2 separate regions of the Homo sapiens genome follow, and region 1 is linked to region 2. Evidence: fine-mapped expression QTL. A gene starts in region 2. The other region holds a variant in brackets. All regions are shown on one strand. Distances are between the middles of the regions.

What was found. PIP is the estimated chance that this variant, and not a neighbour inherited with it, causes the effect.
Region 1: its variant is fine-mapped to the expression of MROH1 in esophagus mucosa (GTEx, PIP 0.95).

The regions. Positions count from the first base shown.
Region 1 is chr8:144,177,996-144,186,311 of GRCh38, forward strand. It overlaps MROH1 (maestro heat like repeat family member 1), which reads left to right. Exons shown (of 44, transcript NM_032450.3): 5 at 1,460-1,591; 6 at 2,183-2,345; 7 at 2,430-2,528. Among named protein-coding and RNA genes, the nearest start is that of MROH1, 34 kb to the left of the region's middle. RefSeq lists enhancers at 194-1,007, 2,547-3,264, 6,395-6,938 and silencers at 4,070-4,242, 7,284-7,333. The variant G/A (reference allele first, on the strand shown) is at 4,571.
Region 2 is chr8:144,144,143-144,152,458 of GRCh38, forward strand. It overlaps MROH1 (maestro heat like repeat family member 1), which reads left to right and starts at 3,874. Exons shown (of 44, transcript NM_032450.3): 1 at 3,874-3,934. RefSeq lists silencers at 3,146-3,235, 3,356-3,555, 3,726-4,105.

The DNA of each region.
Region 1 (8,316 bases), 34 kb after region 2:
GCTCTGTCGCCCAGGCTGGAGTGGTGTGATCTCGGCTCACTGCAACCTCCACCTCCCGGGTTCAAGCTTTTCTCCTGCCTCAGCCTCCCAAGTAGCTGGGATTACAGGTGCCGGCCACTGTGACTGGGTAATTTTTGTTTTTTGTGTTTTTTTTTTGAGACAGAGTCTTGCTCCGTGGCCCAGGCTGGAGTGCAGTGGCGCGATCTCGGCTCTGCAACCTCTGCCTCCCGGGTTCAAGCGATTCTTCTGCCTCAGCCTCCCGAGTAGCTGGGACTACAGGTGTGCGCCACCACACACGGCTAATTTTTGTATTTTTAGTAGAGACGGGGTTTCACCATATTGGCCAGGCTGGTCTCGAACCCCTGACATCAGGTGATCCGCCCGCCTCAGCCTCCCTAAGTGTTGAGATTACAGGCGTGAGCCACCACGCACGGCCTGTACTTTTTTTTTTTTAGTAGAGACAGGGTTTCACCATGTTGGCCAGGCTGGTCTTGAACCCCTGACATCAGGTGATCCGCCCGCCTCGGCCTCCCTAAGTGTTGAGATTACAGGCGTGAGCCACCGCGCCTGTTCGGGTTTTTGCAGGTCACCTCTTTATAGCCATGTGAGAATGGACGACAGAGCCTGTGGGCCTCTGGGCCGCCCTGTGCCGGCCATGTTGCCTGGTGCAGGCTGCTCTCAGGGTGGTGGAGGGAGGGGCCATGGTGGGTGCATCATTGGGGAGGGGCTGTCAACACAGGGTGGCTGGGTGCCCCAGGTTCCTTTCCTGGGTTGGGCAGTAGCCTACTCTGCTGTGTGCCCCCGCGGGTCCCAGCTTTCAGTCCCAGTCCTTGGTGTGTCCCCAGTTGAGGCAAGGACAGTGTGTGCTCTTTGGATTTACAGTGGAGGTGGTGGTCGACAGGAGAGCTGCTTAGGGGGAGGATGAAGGCAGGTGGTTGGACTCTGCGGAGGGTTAACCTGGGAGGTGGAGGTGGCTTGGGGGCGTGGCAGAAGGTGGTGTGGTGGGTGGCGTTTTTCCTTAGCAGCCTTGGGGAGGGGCCGTTGGATACAAGCACTAGCCTAGCGGCAGAGACTGAGGCCATGACCACTGAGCTGGGGACAGGAGTGTGCTCCTCCTCTGACAGGGGAGGGCAGGGCAAGGAGGTGGAAGGGTCCTGGGAGTGTCATGTGACTGGGAGACCCTACTGACTACCCCTGGAGGAGAGAAGCCCCCCGCCTCGCCCTCTGCATGTTGGTTGTCTGGCGCAGGATAACGCTCCACCCTTCTGGAGATGGGCCGTGAGTGTGAGGCTTGCAGGCCGGCTTTTAGGGCGTGAGGAGTGATCAGGTGTACCCCTCCCCTCCTGCACTTGAGGCAGAGAGATTTGTGCGGTTTCATCTTGTAGAGACAGTGACAGGCACTCAGAGTGTCTGGGTGTGGGGCTCACCTGGGACCGACCTGGACGGTGTCTCTCCGCAGCTGGCACACCCATACCGAGCAGCGGTCCTGAGGGCCATGGAGAGGGTCCTGAGCAGTCGCGCCAGTGAGCTGGACAAGGACACAGCCAGCACCATCATCCTCCTGGCCTCCAGCGAGATGACCAAGACGAAGGTATTCAGCAGGCCCTCTGGCCTCGCAGACTCAGGCCTAGCTTGGGAAGGGAAGCTGCTTCTTGGCCTTTCTACCCAGCAGCCTTGAGAGTATAGGGTGGTGTTTGGCTGCCTTGGGCTGGCAGATGCCCTTCGGTCTCATGCATCACCCTGCAGGGGTGGGGGGTGGTCCCCTGTGATTTTCAGAGGCAGCAACTGAAGCAGAGAGCAAGTTGCCAGAACTCAGCACACGCAGGACCGTGGTGTGCGTGCAGCTGGGGCCAAAGGCTGTGCCCGGCATTGGGGTTGGTGCAGGGCTCTGGTGGGCCTAACTCTCAGGGCACTGAGTGCAGCCCCCTCTCACCAGGGCTCTGCTGCTCCTGCGTGTGGGGTCTCCTCAGCAGCCCCTCACCTCTCACCAGGGCTCTGCTGCTCCTGCGTGTGGGGTCTCCTCAGCAGCCCCTCAGCAGAGGAGGCTGTGCCCGCCACCTTCCCTGACCTGCACTTTCTGGGGACGCTGAAAACAGCGTGCGCTTGTCCAAGGCTGGCAGCGACTGAGGGCAGAATGTCTTGGTCTTGCCTTTTGGTCTACCTGCCGGTGTTTTGGGTTCAGGACCTGGTCTGGGACTGGCAGCAGGCGGCGAGTGGCGTCCTGGTGGCCGTGGGAAGACAGTTCATCAGCAAGGTGATGGAGGAGCTGCTGCGCAGGCTGCACCCTGGGACCCTGCCACACTGCGCCGTGCTGCACACCCTCGCCAGCCTCTCGGTGGCCAACGGTAGGTGACGCGCGGCCTGCCCCAGGAGGAGCACGGGGCGCTGGAAGCCTTGGCGGAGGCCTTTGACGGTGTCCTCTCTCACAGCGTTCGGCGTAGTCCCCTTCCTGCCATCCGTCCTGAGCTCCCTGCTGCCCGTGCTGGGCGTGGCCAAGCAGGACACGGTGCGCGTGGCCTTCTGCTCCGGTAAGAGGCGGCCTCGTCACCTTCTGTCTCAAGTGCCCCTTTGTGGGGGGCTGTTCCCGGGCATGCCTGTTTTAGGGGGGACAGGTGGGCACTTTAGGCTGCAGGAAGGGGGGCTGTTGGAGGGAGGGGCCCCCTGGCTGAGGCTGCTGGCTGGTTGGGGGGCCCATGTGGGGCTGACACAGCCTCTGTCTCTTGTTTCTCTCTACTCCTGGAGAGCCCCCCACCTTACATTGTGGGTCCACTGAGGGCTGGACGTGCCTGGGGGGTAGGAAGAGACTTCCTCGAAGCCATGACTTTTTGTTTTCCTCCCCACTCCAGGCTAGAAAAGTGTCCGCTCTCTGGGCATCCCAGGACCCAGGGGATGGGGGCACATTCATTCACCCCCACCCTCTGCCAGGAGCCCCATTCCTGGCAGCACTGCCCACAGCCCTCTGTGTGCCTGGCAGGGGACTGCGGGCATGTCATGGGCCTGGACCTTGGTTTCCCCTGCCACTGACAGTGGGGGAGTGGTTGGTGGGATTGGAGGGCATTTCTGTTAGAAGGGGGTGTGGAGATTAGAGATCCTGAGCTACCCTTAGTGCCCTCACAGCCCACGGCCTCGTGCTCCCGGTGTCCCATGTCAGGAAGACGGCCAGCCCTGGTAGCTGGCCGGGAGGAGAACAGGACCCTCGTGCCCAGGGGACCAGCCCTCGTAAAGAGCCAGCCCTCTGGGGCCGGGGGCCGTTAGTTCCAGGCAGCAGGTGTGGGAGGACCCAGTGATGGGGGAGGGGCCCGGTGATGGGGGAGGGGCCGGTGATGGGGGAGGGGCCTGGTGGGGCCCGGGCAGGGCATGTTTTCGAAGCATGGAGGGAGTGGTTACAGGGCTGGGCTGGGCTCTGTAGACTGCAGGGTTGGTTTGGAGCATTTGGACCCACCTGCTCTGCTCCTGGTGACTTTGGGTTCAGATCACAGGGCTCCTGCCACCCTCTCCTCAGCCCTTGCGCTCCGTCTCTCCTGGCCCTGCTCTTTGATAAATGCCTTCATCTTTGGGGCACTCCTTCACAGGCTCTTTCTCACCTGTGGATGAGGGCAGGGCCCCTTGGGTAGAAGGGATAGTAACTCCATGTGACCCAGTTTTGGCTAAAAATGGGATTGGTGACAGGATGGGGGCAGCTGCATACTGAGCCAGGTGTGAAGGAGCAGAGAGTGGAAGTGGGTGTGGGTGTGGACTCAGCTAAGGTGCCTGGGGCGCAGGACGTGCCATCCAGGCTGCAGGGCGGAGACAGAACGGGGCCGCTGGGGCGCCTGTCTCTGTGCTGCACGCACATCGCCCCTTCCCGCCACTCCTCTGGGAAGTGGCCTGATCCCTGCAGCTGCTGAGGCTCTAAGCAGAAACGGACTTGCAGTTCTGACACCTCTTGCTTACCTTCCCCTTCATAGGGGACCTGCGGCTCCTCTGGGCCCTACCATGCTGGCATTTTCCTCCATGTGTCAAACACATGGGTTCAGCCAGCGAAGATTCCATGGGACCTCCTCGTGTGGGACGTGTGCTCCCCACCACAAATGGAACGTTCCCTGTTTGCATCTGGAGGGGTTGGTGGTCCTGCTGGCTGGAGCAGCCTGGGGCCAGAGGAAGCCGTATCAACCGGGTGAGGCCTAGTGGTGGGGGCGGTGGCAGGCCTGCGTCCACTGCGGGAGGGTGCAGGTCCAGCCAGGACAGGCAGTGTGCCAAGGACAGGAGTGCCCTCAGGGCACTGCAGCCAGGAGGCGAGGAGCCTCAGGGAAGACTCCCAGTGGTGGAGGCACGGCTGGCCTGGCCACGCCGTCCAGCAGGGCAGGCATCCAGTAATTCCTCCCGGCCAAGGAACCCCTCCAGTAGGAAAGGTGGCAACAAAAGAAACAGACACTAATTGGAGATGTAGATGGTTCAGGGAGAAGAAAATAACAGAGAAAGAAAATCTCTGATTAATATCCTCAGGAAAATAAGTGGGCATCATGCATTCACGGGACAAGAGGTGTCACCATGGAGAAGCCACATTGAGAGAATAAAACTGACCTTCTGT[G/A]AATTAAAGATGCCATAATAGAAATGGGAAAAATAATAGAAGAATTGGAAGAGAAAGTTGTGGAAATTTCCAGAAAATAGAGGAAAAAGGCAAAAATATGGAAAGTAGGAGAGAAAGAGAAGAATGAACTAGCAGGCTGAACCCTGAAGCCAGCATTCCAATCAGAGGCACCCTAGAAAGAATGGACAGAGATGGGAGGTCAAGAGATGACGCAAAGGCATGCCCTAGTGGCCGGGTGCGGTGGCTCATGCCTGTAATCCCAGCACTTTGGAAAGCCGAAGCGGGCTGATCACTTGAGGTCAGGAGTTCAAGACCAGTCTGGCCAACATGGCAAAACCCCGTCTCTACTAAAAATACAAAAAAATTAGCCGGGTGTGGTGGCGCATGTCTGTAATCCCTGATACTGTGGATGAGACAGGAGGATTGCTTGAACCTCGGAGGCGGAGGCTGCAGTGAGCCAAGATTGCACCACTGTACTCCAGCCCGGGTGACAGAGTGAGACTCTGTCTCAAAACAAACAAATCAAAACTAGCTGGGCATGGTAGCTTACGCCTGTAATCCCAGTACTTTGGGAGGCCAAAATGGGAGGATCACTTGAGCCCAGGAATTCGAAACCAGGCTGGGCAGCATGGTGAGACCCCATCGTTAGAAAAAATATTTTTAAAAATTTGCCAGGTATGGTAGCACATGCCTGTATTCCAGCTCCTTGGAAGGCTGAGGCAGGAGGATTGCTTGACCCTGGGAAGTCGAGGCTGCAGTGAACCAAGATCAAGCTACTGAACTCCAGCCTGGGTGACAGAGCAAGACTCTGTCTCAAAAAAAAAAAAAAAAATCCTAATAACACAACAGGGGTGGGCTTCTGCTTGTGGCATTATGGTGGTCTGTTATTCTGAAAAAACTTCCCACTGCCGAATACCTGGAATGCTGATGAGTTGACCAGCATCCTTCTGATCAATCAGAAGGAGAAACCTAGGCCCACGGAGGTCAAGAGGGGAGGTGAGAGGTTAGAGCTCTCCAGTGGCCCCTGGGCACCTGCCTGCCTTGATTTCACATGGGAGACAAGGCCTTTCTTCTTCTTTTTTCTTTTTTCTTTTTTTTTGAGATGGAGTCTCGCTCTGTTGCCCAGGCTGGAGTGCAGTGGCGCGATCTCGGCTCACTGCAAGCTCTGCCTCCCAGGTTCACGCCATTCGCCTGCCTCAGCCTCTCCGAGTAGCTGGGACTACAGGCGCCCACCACCACGCCTGGCTAATTTTTTGTATTTTTAGTGGAGACGGGGTTTCACCATGTTAGCCAGGATGGTCTGGATCTCCTGACCTCGTGATCCGCCCGCCTCGGCCTCCCAAAGTGCTGGGATTACAGGCATGGACCACCGCGCCTGGCCAGACAAGGCCTTTCTTTGCACTGGGTCAGAGCCCACCTGTACCAGACCCTTCAAGGCCCCTCCTCAGCAAAAAGTGACTGATGAGGAACCTTCCACTGTGCACCCTGGGAGGTAGTCTGTTTTCTTTTAGAATTTCTTTTAAATCCTCTCTCCTGAGAATTTGTAACCATGGTCTGTCCTGATGTAGTTGTAGGGTTCAAAGTTGTTCTTTGTGTTGGACTGGGAAGCCCTTAAGCTGAGACGTTAGCCGTGTAAATGGGCCGGGCTGAAGTGTCCTGGGTGGGGTGACCAGTGTCCTACTGAATGTTTGCGTCCCAGTCAGGCTGCATGGCAGTGGCTCTGGCCGGGGGGTGTGGCCGTGGGAAGCAGCGCTTCCCTGGAGCGCAGGGTCTCGGCTCTGGTGTGGGGCCAGCAGCTCTCCACGGACCCAGGACCAGCAATATCAGTTACAGTCACAAAGCACACACGTCAGCACACAAAAAAAGGAGCATTAGAGCAGAAAGTCACATAATTTGGATTGATGAGATACAGGATAAAAATAGCAAGGTAAAGAGGCGAAAGGGAGAAAGGACAGGGTCCTACAAGGACAGAGCCAGTGTGAAAAGAGAACCAAATACAGTCTAGAAACAAAACTGTAACCATTTCCATTAAAGAGTAAGGAGGTGGGTGTGGCAGCCGGTTGCAGACACTGAAGAGAGTGCACCAGCTGGACAGGGGTCTGGGGACAACCCGGAGGGCAGCCCTGAGCTGGCAGAGAGAAGGGGGTGCGGGGCAGGCGTCAGGTGAGCTGGCCGAGCACCCCCAGCTACAGAGCACGAGTCCAGAAGAGGTGAGAAGAGGCCCAGGCTCACCGGCATCATCAAAGGGAGATGCTGTGGAGGGGCCGCCAGGAGCTGCTGACTTTCACAGCCAGTGCCAGACCTGTTCCCTGGAGCCCTGTCACCTCCACCCAGGGCAGAAGGACGCTATGGGGCTGGGGCAGAGCAGGAGTCCCCACCCCCTGCACTGGAGAGGGTGTGGAGGCCCTGGGTGCTGCTGGTGAGTGACAGGTGTGCAGGGGATCCCCGCGCCAGCAAGAAAGGAGCTGAGGAGGAGGGGGAGGCAGGCAGCCTCTTGCCCTTTTCTCTGTCGGGGAGGGAAGTGTCTTGTAGCTTTAGGGAAACCACTGCAGTGTTGCAGTCCCAGGATTTCTGTGCAGTGTGTCGCTCCTGCAGGCAGCCTGCCGGTTCCACTGGAATCCTCGTGCTGTGCCGCCTGACCCTCCCTGGCCTCTGTGGTTTCTGCAGGGTGGGAAGTGGGAGCTGAGCCCTCCCATCTCACTGTATGTGTCAGGCCGTTGCAAGTTTTGTCGTTACTGTGGTCTCACCTACCCAGACCTGAGCAAGGCAGAAAACACAGAAACTAATGCTTTAGAAAATAAGCAGTTGGCAAAACGTTATGTTTTATACCTAGTTCTTTGAAATAAGTGAATTAAATACTTAAGCTGCTGCCTCATCAAGAGAAAAGAGAGAAACAAGCCAAGTGGTAAACAGGAGGTGAATAGATGTGAGGACAGCGAGGGGTGGCGCGGGGACCGCGGGGAGATGTGAGGGGTGGCATGGGGACCGTGAGAGGGGCGGTGAGGGGCGGCGCAGGGGCCTTGAGGGGATGTGAGAGGCAGTGCGGGGACCGCGGGGGGCGGTGAGGGCCGGGGGGGGGGACGGTGAGGGGCGGCGCAGGGACCTCGAGGGGACGTGAGGGGCAGTGCGGGGACCGTGGGGGGAGGGGGAGGGGCGGCGGGGGGACGGTGAGGGGCGGCGCGGGGACCTCGAGGGGACGTGAGGGGCAGTGCGGGGACCGTGGGGGGAGGGGGAGGGGCGGCGCAGGGACCTCGAGGGGACGTGAGGGGCAGTGTGGGAACCACGGGGGGGCGGTGAGGGGCAGTGCAGGGACCGTGGGGGGATGGTGAGGGGTGGCGGGGGGGCGGCGAGGGGCGACGTGGGGACCACAAGGGACCAGCAAGGGCCGCCGAGGGGACCGCGTGCCCAGTGCAGCCACCTCTGAAAGCCCAGCAGCGAGTGCTCCAGGAGAGTGCCACTTCCCAGGCAGTGCTCCGTGGGCTCCGCAGTGGGCTCTCTCCCAGTCCTCAGGGCTGTGTCACCCCGGGGAAATGAAGCAAAAAGGACAGTTTCCAATTTTTTTTTTTTTTTTTGGAGACAGGGTCTCACTCTGTCACCCAGGCTGGAGTGCAGTGGTGTGATCTTGGCTCACTGCAACCTCTTGCCTCCCAGGCTGAAGTGATCCTCCCACCTCAGCTCCCAGAGTAGCTGCGACCAGAGGTGCCCGCCACCACACCCAGCTAATTTTTGTATTTTTAGTAGAGACG
Region 2 (8,316 bases):
AGCTGTTAAAGAAATGAGGGTGGGGATTTCTGGGGCATAAGGACAGGAAAAGGGACACATACGTGTCAACCACCATTTCAACTGCACCCCCTCCTTCGAGAGGATGCCATGGCCACACTCAGCTGGGCCCTAAGGTGGGCTGAGCCAGAGGAAGGCAGGCAGGAGCTCTGTCTCCCGGCCTTCTCCACTGGAGCCTGAAGCACCTCCTGCCCAGGCCAGCAAGGTGCAGGAAGCGTCCCACCTAGAGACCTCTGCAGACTTGACCACACACCCCAGGGCAAGCAAGGGCCCCACTCCTGAGCCTACCTCTGATCCTACAGTTCCAAGAGACAGAAGCCAACCTTGCCCCTCCCTTCTGGACCCCAGAGTGCCCTGTGGGCACTATTACTGCTAACGTTTGAGTGCCAGCTCTGTGCCGGGTGCCATTCTGGGCAGTCGCACCAGCTACCACTACCACCTGTAGCAGTCCTGCCCCCGTTCACAGAAGACATTCAGGAGCCCAGCCTGTGGGGGCAGTTCACATCTGGGATCTCAAGTCCTAACACAACCAAGCAATCCTCGCTTTACAGATGATGAAATTGAGCCGCCATGGTGGGGAAGCCCAACCCAAATGTGTCATCTCTGCTGTGAGCTAGACAGCACAGTGGCTGTGGGCCTGGAGGGCAGGGCTGCCTGATGGGCAGCCATCCTGGGAATGTCTGCAAGGGTCTGGTGCTTGGTACAGACCAGTGAGTCTGGGGAATTGGGGTCTCCACCAAGATCTGTGGGTGCACTTGGCATGTTTGCTGCAGAAAAGGCCCCAGAATGGGCTGGCTTGAACTGGAAAAACACACTTTCTCATCCCTTTTGGACCACGAGCTTCTTGAGAGCAAAGCATGTGTTTGATATTCCTTTGCTCACCCTCAGGCCTTGTTTGGCAAATTGCCTGGGATACAGAAAATAAGGACAAGGTCTGGGTGTAGTGGCTTATGCCTGTAATCCCAGCACTTTGGGTGACCAAGGCAGGAGGATCTCTTGAGGCCAGGAGTTGCAGACCAGCCTGGGTAACATAGTGAGACCTTGTCTCTGCAACAAAATTTAAAAATTAGCCAGACTTGGTGGTTCCCACTTGCAATCCCAGCTATTTGGGAGGCTGAGGCGAGAGGATCACTTGAGCGCAGGAATTTAAGGCTGCTGTGAGCTATGATTGTGCCACTGCACTCCAGCCTGGGTAACAGTGAGAGGCCTCATTTCAACAATAAAACCCAGCTTGGGCCGGGCGCGGTGGCTCATGCCTTTAATCCCAGCACTTTGGGAGGCCAAGACGGGCAGATCACGAGGTCAGGAGATAGAGACCATCCTGGTTAACACGGTGAAACCCTGTCTCTACAAAAAATACAAAAAAAAAAAATTAGCCGGGCATGGTGGCAGGCACCTGTAGTCCCAGCCAGTCGGGAGGCTGAGGCGGAAGAATGGCGTGAACCCGGGAGGCAGAGGTTGCAGTGAGCCGAGATCGCGCCACTGCACTCCAGCCTAGGGGACAGTTAGACCTCAGAAGAAACAAACTGGTTTGTGGTTGACCTGGGGGTTAGGTGTAGGGAAAAGAAAGACAGATCAGACTGTCCCTGTGTCTATGTAGAAAGGGAAGACATAAGAGACTCCATTTTGAAAAAGACCTGTACTTTAAACAATTGCGTTGCTGAGATGTTGTTAATTTGTAGCTTTGCCCCAGCCACTTTGATCCAACCTGGAGCTCACAAAAACGTGTGTTGTATGAAATCAAGGTTTAAGGGATCTAGGGCTGTGCAGGACGTGCTTTATTAACAAAATGTTTACAAGCAGTATACTTGGTAAAAGTCATCACCATTCTCTAGTCTCGATAAACCAGGGGCACAATGCACTGTGGAAAGCCACAGGGACCTCTGCCCTTGAAAGCAGGGTATTGTCCAAGGTTTCTCCCCATGTGATAGTCTGAAATATGGCCTCGTGGGATGAGAAAGACCTGACTGTCCCCCAAACTGACACCCGTAAAGGGTCTGTGCTGAGGTGGATTAGTAAAAGAGGAAAGCCTCTTGCAGTTGAGTTAGAGGAAGGCCACTGTCTCCTGCCTGCCCCTGGAAACTGAATGTCTTGGTATAAAACCCGATTGTACATTCAGTTCTGAGCTAGGAGAAAAACCGCCCTATGGTGGGAGGTGAGACATGTTTGCAGTAATGCTGCTTTGTTATTCTTTACTCCACTGAGATGTTTGGGTGGAGAGAAACATAAATCTGGCTTAAGTGCACGTCCAGTCATAGTACCTTCCCTTGAACTTAATTATGACATAGATGCTTTTGCTCACGTTTTTTGCTGACCTTCTCATCACCCTGCTCTCCTACAACATTCCTTTTTGCTGAAATAATGAAAATAATAATAAAAACTGAGGGAACTCAGAGGCCGGTGCTGGTGCAGGTCCTTGGTGTGCTGAGTGCTGGTCCCCTGGGCCCACTGTTGTTTCTCTATACTTTGTCTCTGTGTCTTATTTCTTTTCTCAGTCTCTCGTCCCACCCGACTAGAAATACCCACAGGTGTGGAGGGGCAGGCCACCCCTTCATTAGGAAAAAAATAGAAACTGCGCCAGGCAATTTAAGCAGGTGGGATTGGTTGCTTAAGTGTCAGAAGGGCTTGAGAGGCACGGGGGCAGGGTGGAGTTCGTCGAAGGTGGGGGCTGCAAGAAGCGGCCACTCTAGAACCGGAGCCAGGTGGTCCCGACCCAGGGTGGCTGAGCCTCTGGGCTCTGCTGCGGAGCCTGGGAGCCTGCGGCCCCTGCGGCACACCTCCGCTCCCACCAGTGGCAGGACACAGCTGGAAGCCCGCGAGTGTCAAGCCAAGTGATGACTGCAGGATCAGAACGGCCATTGGCTCTGTCCACCCTCCCTTTGCAGTCTCGATTATCCGCGTCGTTGCCTGCACCTGAGTCCATTCCCGGGGCTTCATTGGGCAGCCGTCCCGTGCGGGGCTTTGTAAGCAGCCCTCGGGAGCAAAATACAGACTCAGGCCTGCCCCTGGCGGAGGGGCTGGCGTTCGTTTGTGATCGGAGTGAAAGTGGGGCTGTGCTGCGCGCGGCAGCTGGTGTGCGTGAGGCGGGGGCGGCACCGAGACCGGGAGGGGACAAGGCCACAGGCGCGTGGGAAGCCGCCGCAGGGGCCGCGCCCGCATCCGCAAAGGGTACTGCGCTCTCCCGGGCGCCGTCCCCACAGCGGGAGCCCAGTCCCTCCGGCCAGGAGTGGACATCCTGCCCGCGCTGCTCCCGCCGCCTCCGCCTCTGCCGACGCCCAGCCTGGACGCGCGGCGGGCGCTTTCCTTCCTCACATCGCTCTTATCGCGTCCCGAGTTCCCGGGACCCCGCTGGTCGCCTCTTTCCCAACGAGCGCAGGGCCCTGCGAGTCCTGCCCCCCTCCGGGTGCCGCGGCCTCCAGCTGGCGCTTCCGGGGCAGACAGAGGGCGGGCGGGCCGCGCGAGTCCAGGGCGGGCGTGTGCTTGCGAGCGGCCGCAACGCCGCGCCGAGCCCGCGTCCCCGGCGTCTGGGAGCGGAGGTCGTCAGGGCTGTATGCGTCCGACGGGGACACGGGGACTGCAGCACCCCGGGGCTGGCGTAGCTGTCGCGAGCCTGAAGGCCGCGCCTGCGCCGTGGCGGCCGAACTGTCGCTCAACAGACGGGCGGGGCCGAGCGTGAGGCGGAGTCTGCGCACTGCTGCTTTGCAAATGAAGGTGGGCGGGGTGGAGCGAGCGTGAGAGACGTGCCCCCGACCAATAAGTGCAGAGATCGCTCGGGGGCGGGGACCTGCTGCCGCGCTCCAGGCTGCGGGTGGCCAGAAGGCAGCGGGGGCGGGCTCGGCGCGCGCGGCTCCGCCCACTCCGGGCCCCTGCTGGGCGGGAAGGCGGCGCCCCGGCCGAGGTGGCGGCGGCTCCTCAGGTAAACGGCGGGTGGGGATGAGCCTTCGGCGGCGCTGGGGAAGAGCCCCTCGGGGAAGTCTGGGCTGAAGAGCCTGGGGCGGCTCCCTTGGCGGGGCCGCGGAGGAAGCCGAGTCAGGAGGCGCCTCCCCAAGGTCACAGGGCGAACGCTGGGAGGGTCCTGGGTGTCGCGGGGACCTCGGCTCAGGTGTGCGCCGCGCCACAGCCCGGAAGAGAGGCCGGAGCTGTGCGGCTGTGCTCCTCCTCTGCGCCGCTAAGTCGTCTCGGCCGCGCGACCACCCCTCTTCGGGGAGCTTGGTGGTCCCCGGTGCCCGCCCCTCCGCGGGAGCCCGGTGGTCCCCGGTGCCCGCCCCTCCTGTGAGCCCGGTGGTCCCCAGTGCCCGGCCCTCCCCGGGAGCGCGGTGGTCCCCGGCCCTTCTCCCCCCAGGCGGGGCCACCGGGGGTCCTCTCTCCGGGAAGCCAAGCATACGCCCGGAGCCTGCAAAGCCGGCGTGCCCCGGGCCTCCGTATGCCTTCCGTATTCTCTGACGATCGCGAGCAGGAAGGTGATTTGTCCCTAGTCACGAGGATGACTGGTCATAGCGTGCCGGGCATAGCGCTGGCAGGGCCGCCGGGAGCCAGCCCTCACTCAGCCAAGGTGAGACTTAGGGGGTCGGATTTTCGGGCAGCGTCAGTGCAGCTGCAGTGTGAGGGTCAGAGGAAACCACTCTGCGGGCGCTGGTGGCTCGGTCCTACACACTCTGGGGAGGGGCTCCTTTGCCTGCTCAGTTGGGGAAGGGACAGACTCATAAACTCAAGTGCAGTGAGGTAAGCAGAAAAGGGGTACGGGGGTGTGGCCGAACTTAGGGATGTGAGCAGAGTTGGGTCGGGGACAGCCCTGTAGGCAGGGACCACTTTGGAAGGGGATGGTGGTGAACGCACACGATGCGGTAAGAGGCAGGCAGGGTAGGGCCGGTGATAAGTCAGGTGAGGGTGGTGAGTTGAGTTTAGAGCTGTTGGGTCTCAGTGCGATGACCATGGATGGAGATGTCCCGAAGACCTCGGGTCCCGGCGAGGCGAGGGCTGGAGATGCGTGTGGGAATCGTTGTTTGCGGCATGTTTCATAGGTGGTACGTGTTTGTGACGTGGCTGCATGGACAGTCTGGGCACCCTAGGGTGCTGCCGTCAGCAGGATCTTCAGTGCTCAGTCTCAGGCTCTCAGGGTCCCCGTGAACAGGTGTCTCTGGTCTCTCTTTGATGTCAGAGTGGAATGACCTGAGGCTAAGGTGTTTTTGTTAACTTGAAACTGACGTGCAGGCCGCTGTGGCTTGTGGAGACCTGCACCTCGTCATTTCCCACTGGCTGGGGTTGATTGCTGACTGCTGAGGGACACCAGGGGGTCAGAGGTGGAGGCTGTGGGGCATGTGCTTGCCTGAGTTCGTGGCTGTCTCCTGTGTCAGGAAACAGGTGCTGGTGCTTAGTTTTCTTTCCCAGGGTCCACAGAGGCCCAGGAGAGAAGCCTGGTTGCTGCCCTCTGTCTCGTAGCCCCCCTTTCACAGAGCTGGGTTATTTGGGGTAGAGATCCTCTGTCTGTGCCGGTCCACCCAGCTTGGTTTCTTTGGGGTAGGAGCACCAGGAAAGGCTCCCGTGGCTCTTGGGAGCTCCTAGCCAGTGTGCAGAGAACATGGACTGCTGCCCATCATGAGAAATGTGCTTTCTTCACTGAGCTTGAGGGGCCACCTGGTTTTGGGGGTTTGCATGAGCACCAGTGACACAGCTTGGTGTGGCCTGTATTGAGGAACCATGTTCTCGGTGGACTGTGAGCAGTGGGCTGTGGGATTGCATTTCCCAGGGTCATCAGCCTTATTGGTGACTTTGGAAGTTGATTCTGTGGCTGCTGTGCTGGGAGAGAAGGTTCCTTGGACCTGACGCGTGGGTGGGGCATTCTGTGACCTCCCAGTCTCCCTGCACACACCCAGCCCTGCAGGCTGGCTCACCACTGCTTCTGGGCTATTGATTCCTGTGGCCTGCACAGCCTCGCACACCCCCTCCTAACCCTTTTGGACCCAGTGCAGCACCTCTGTTGTGGGCACAGGTGTGGCAGCCATATACTTTTTGTGGCCGGAGGGCTTTCAAGACAGGAACTCTGGGCCTGGGATGGTGACTGGCGGGTGTTTACTAAATGTGGTTGAATTAAATGAAAAGGAAGCAGCTCTTTCATTCACACAGAAATGTGTGCTATGTAGGGAGAGAAGACCCTATCAACCCTGCCTGCCACCTTCTCCCATTCGTTTGCTTTTTGTTAATTTAACCAGAGCCCTGATTGGCATTTGTGTTTTTTTCTGACATCCCCATTATATACATGTGTGTGTACTAGTACGAGGGCATCTGTAGATAGATGTGGAAAAGTGGATGTTTAGCCACTGAGGCTTGTTGGGGCCGTTCTTCAGGTTCTGCTACTGGCACCAGCACCGAGTAGCCCCTGTCCTCAGCACGTCAGATGCTCTTGGTGTTCAACTGTGTGCTGGCCTCACTGCAAGCCTTTGACTGGTGACACTTTTTGCCATGTAGCCTACAAATAGAGGAGCTAGTCATCACTGATCGTCACCATTTGTAGGTGGTGGGACAGGGCACAGGGATTTTCCATGCCTGCTCATGGCTTACTGGCTCTGCCACTGAGCCCTTATCCAGCCACTGATGCAGGAGGGCTGGGAAGAGAAGAGTGTGGTCCCTTATGGAATAGGGGAAGGGAAGTGCTGGGTAGAGTAGAGCATGGTCCCTGGCTAGGGCTCCACCACCATGGACCTAGATGAGGACAGGCACTCCTGCCTTCCTGCCCAAATGTTACATTTCCCAAGACCACCCTGGCCTGCCATACATAGCTCCTGTGCCTATATAAACCTGAGACCCAGGCCAGGCGTGATGGCTCACGCCTGTAATCCCAGCACTTTGGGAGGCCCAGGCAGGCGGATCACTTGAGGTCAGGAGTTCGAGACCAGCCTGGCCAACATGGTGAAACCCCGTCTCCACTAAAAATACAAAAATTCGTCGAGTGTGGCGGTGGGCGCCTGTAATCCCACCTACTCAGGAGGCCAAGGCAGGAGAATCGCTTGAACCTGGGAGGCGGAGGTTACAGTGAGCCGAGATTGCGCCATTGCATTCCAGCCTGGGTGACAGAGCAATATTCTGTCTCAAAAAAAAAAAAAAAAAAAAAAAAAAACCTCCAAGATGCTAGCAAGGCAGGGACACAGGCAGCTGGACATAGAGAGGAGCAGATTGGCGGAAGAAGACACAAGCAACTGGACCTCGAGGGGAACACGCCAGTGGAAGAACACACCAACAGATGCCAGCACTCTGGCAGGCCATCGACTGGCTGGACAAGGTGGAGTTTGGCCAGGGCAGTCGGAGGAGAGCTGGGGCCACCAAGCAGCCCAACTCCAGAGGAAGACCATCTCCTTTCTGGCTCCCCCATTGGCTGAGAGCTGCTTCCACTCAATAGAACTTTACACTCATTCTCCAAGCCCAGGTGTGATCCGACTCTGCCGGTACACCAAAGGGCAAGAACCCGGGATACAAAAAGCCCTCTGTCCTTGCGACAAGTAGAGGGTCTAATTGAGCTGTTTAGCACAAGCTGCCTATAGACGGCAAACTAAAAGAGCACCCTGGAACACACGCCCACTGGGGCTTCAGGTGTAAACATTCATCCCTAGATACAGCCTCCCGTCTCTGTGCTCCCCCTAGAGGTTTGGGCAGCGGGGCACTGAAGAAGCAATTCGCACCAACGTCACACGCCCTGCGACGGGGACAAGGGGACCTTTCCGCAGCACCGTGCTGCACTGCCGTCGGCTCTGGAAGGGTGGCTGAGTGTCTCTGTTCAACCTAGGGGCAGTCAGCACAGTCCCCATATGTCTGCCGGCGATCTCTCTCTCTTCTGAGAATTCTTGCACGTCCTTTGCTCTCTTTCCTGTTTATCTCAGGGATGTGCACAAGCTCCTTTGCATACAGTAGTCCTTCCCTGTCCACAGGGATATGTCTCATACCTATATACCTATGATAAAGTTTAACTATAAATGAAGCACAATAAGAGGTTGACAGCAATGAATAATAAAATAGAACAGTTTATGACAATACTCAAGACAGCCTGCAATTTAAAACATGAGTTCATTTCTGGAATTTTTCTATTTAATATTTTTGGACTATGTTTGATTGTGGGTAACTGAAACCAAGGAAAGTAAAACAGGATAAGAGGGGACTACTATGTTAATATCAGGCAAGTCATTTTCTCATATATATTATGATTGGTTTATCATAACTGCCTTGTTTTTTTATTTAAAAAAAATTTTTTTTTTTTTTGAGACGGAGTCTTGCTCTGTCGCCAGGCTGGAGTGCAGTGGCACGATTTTG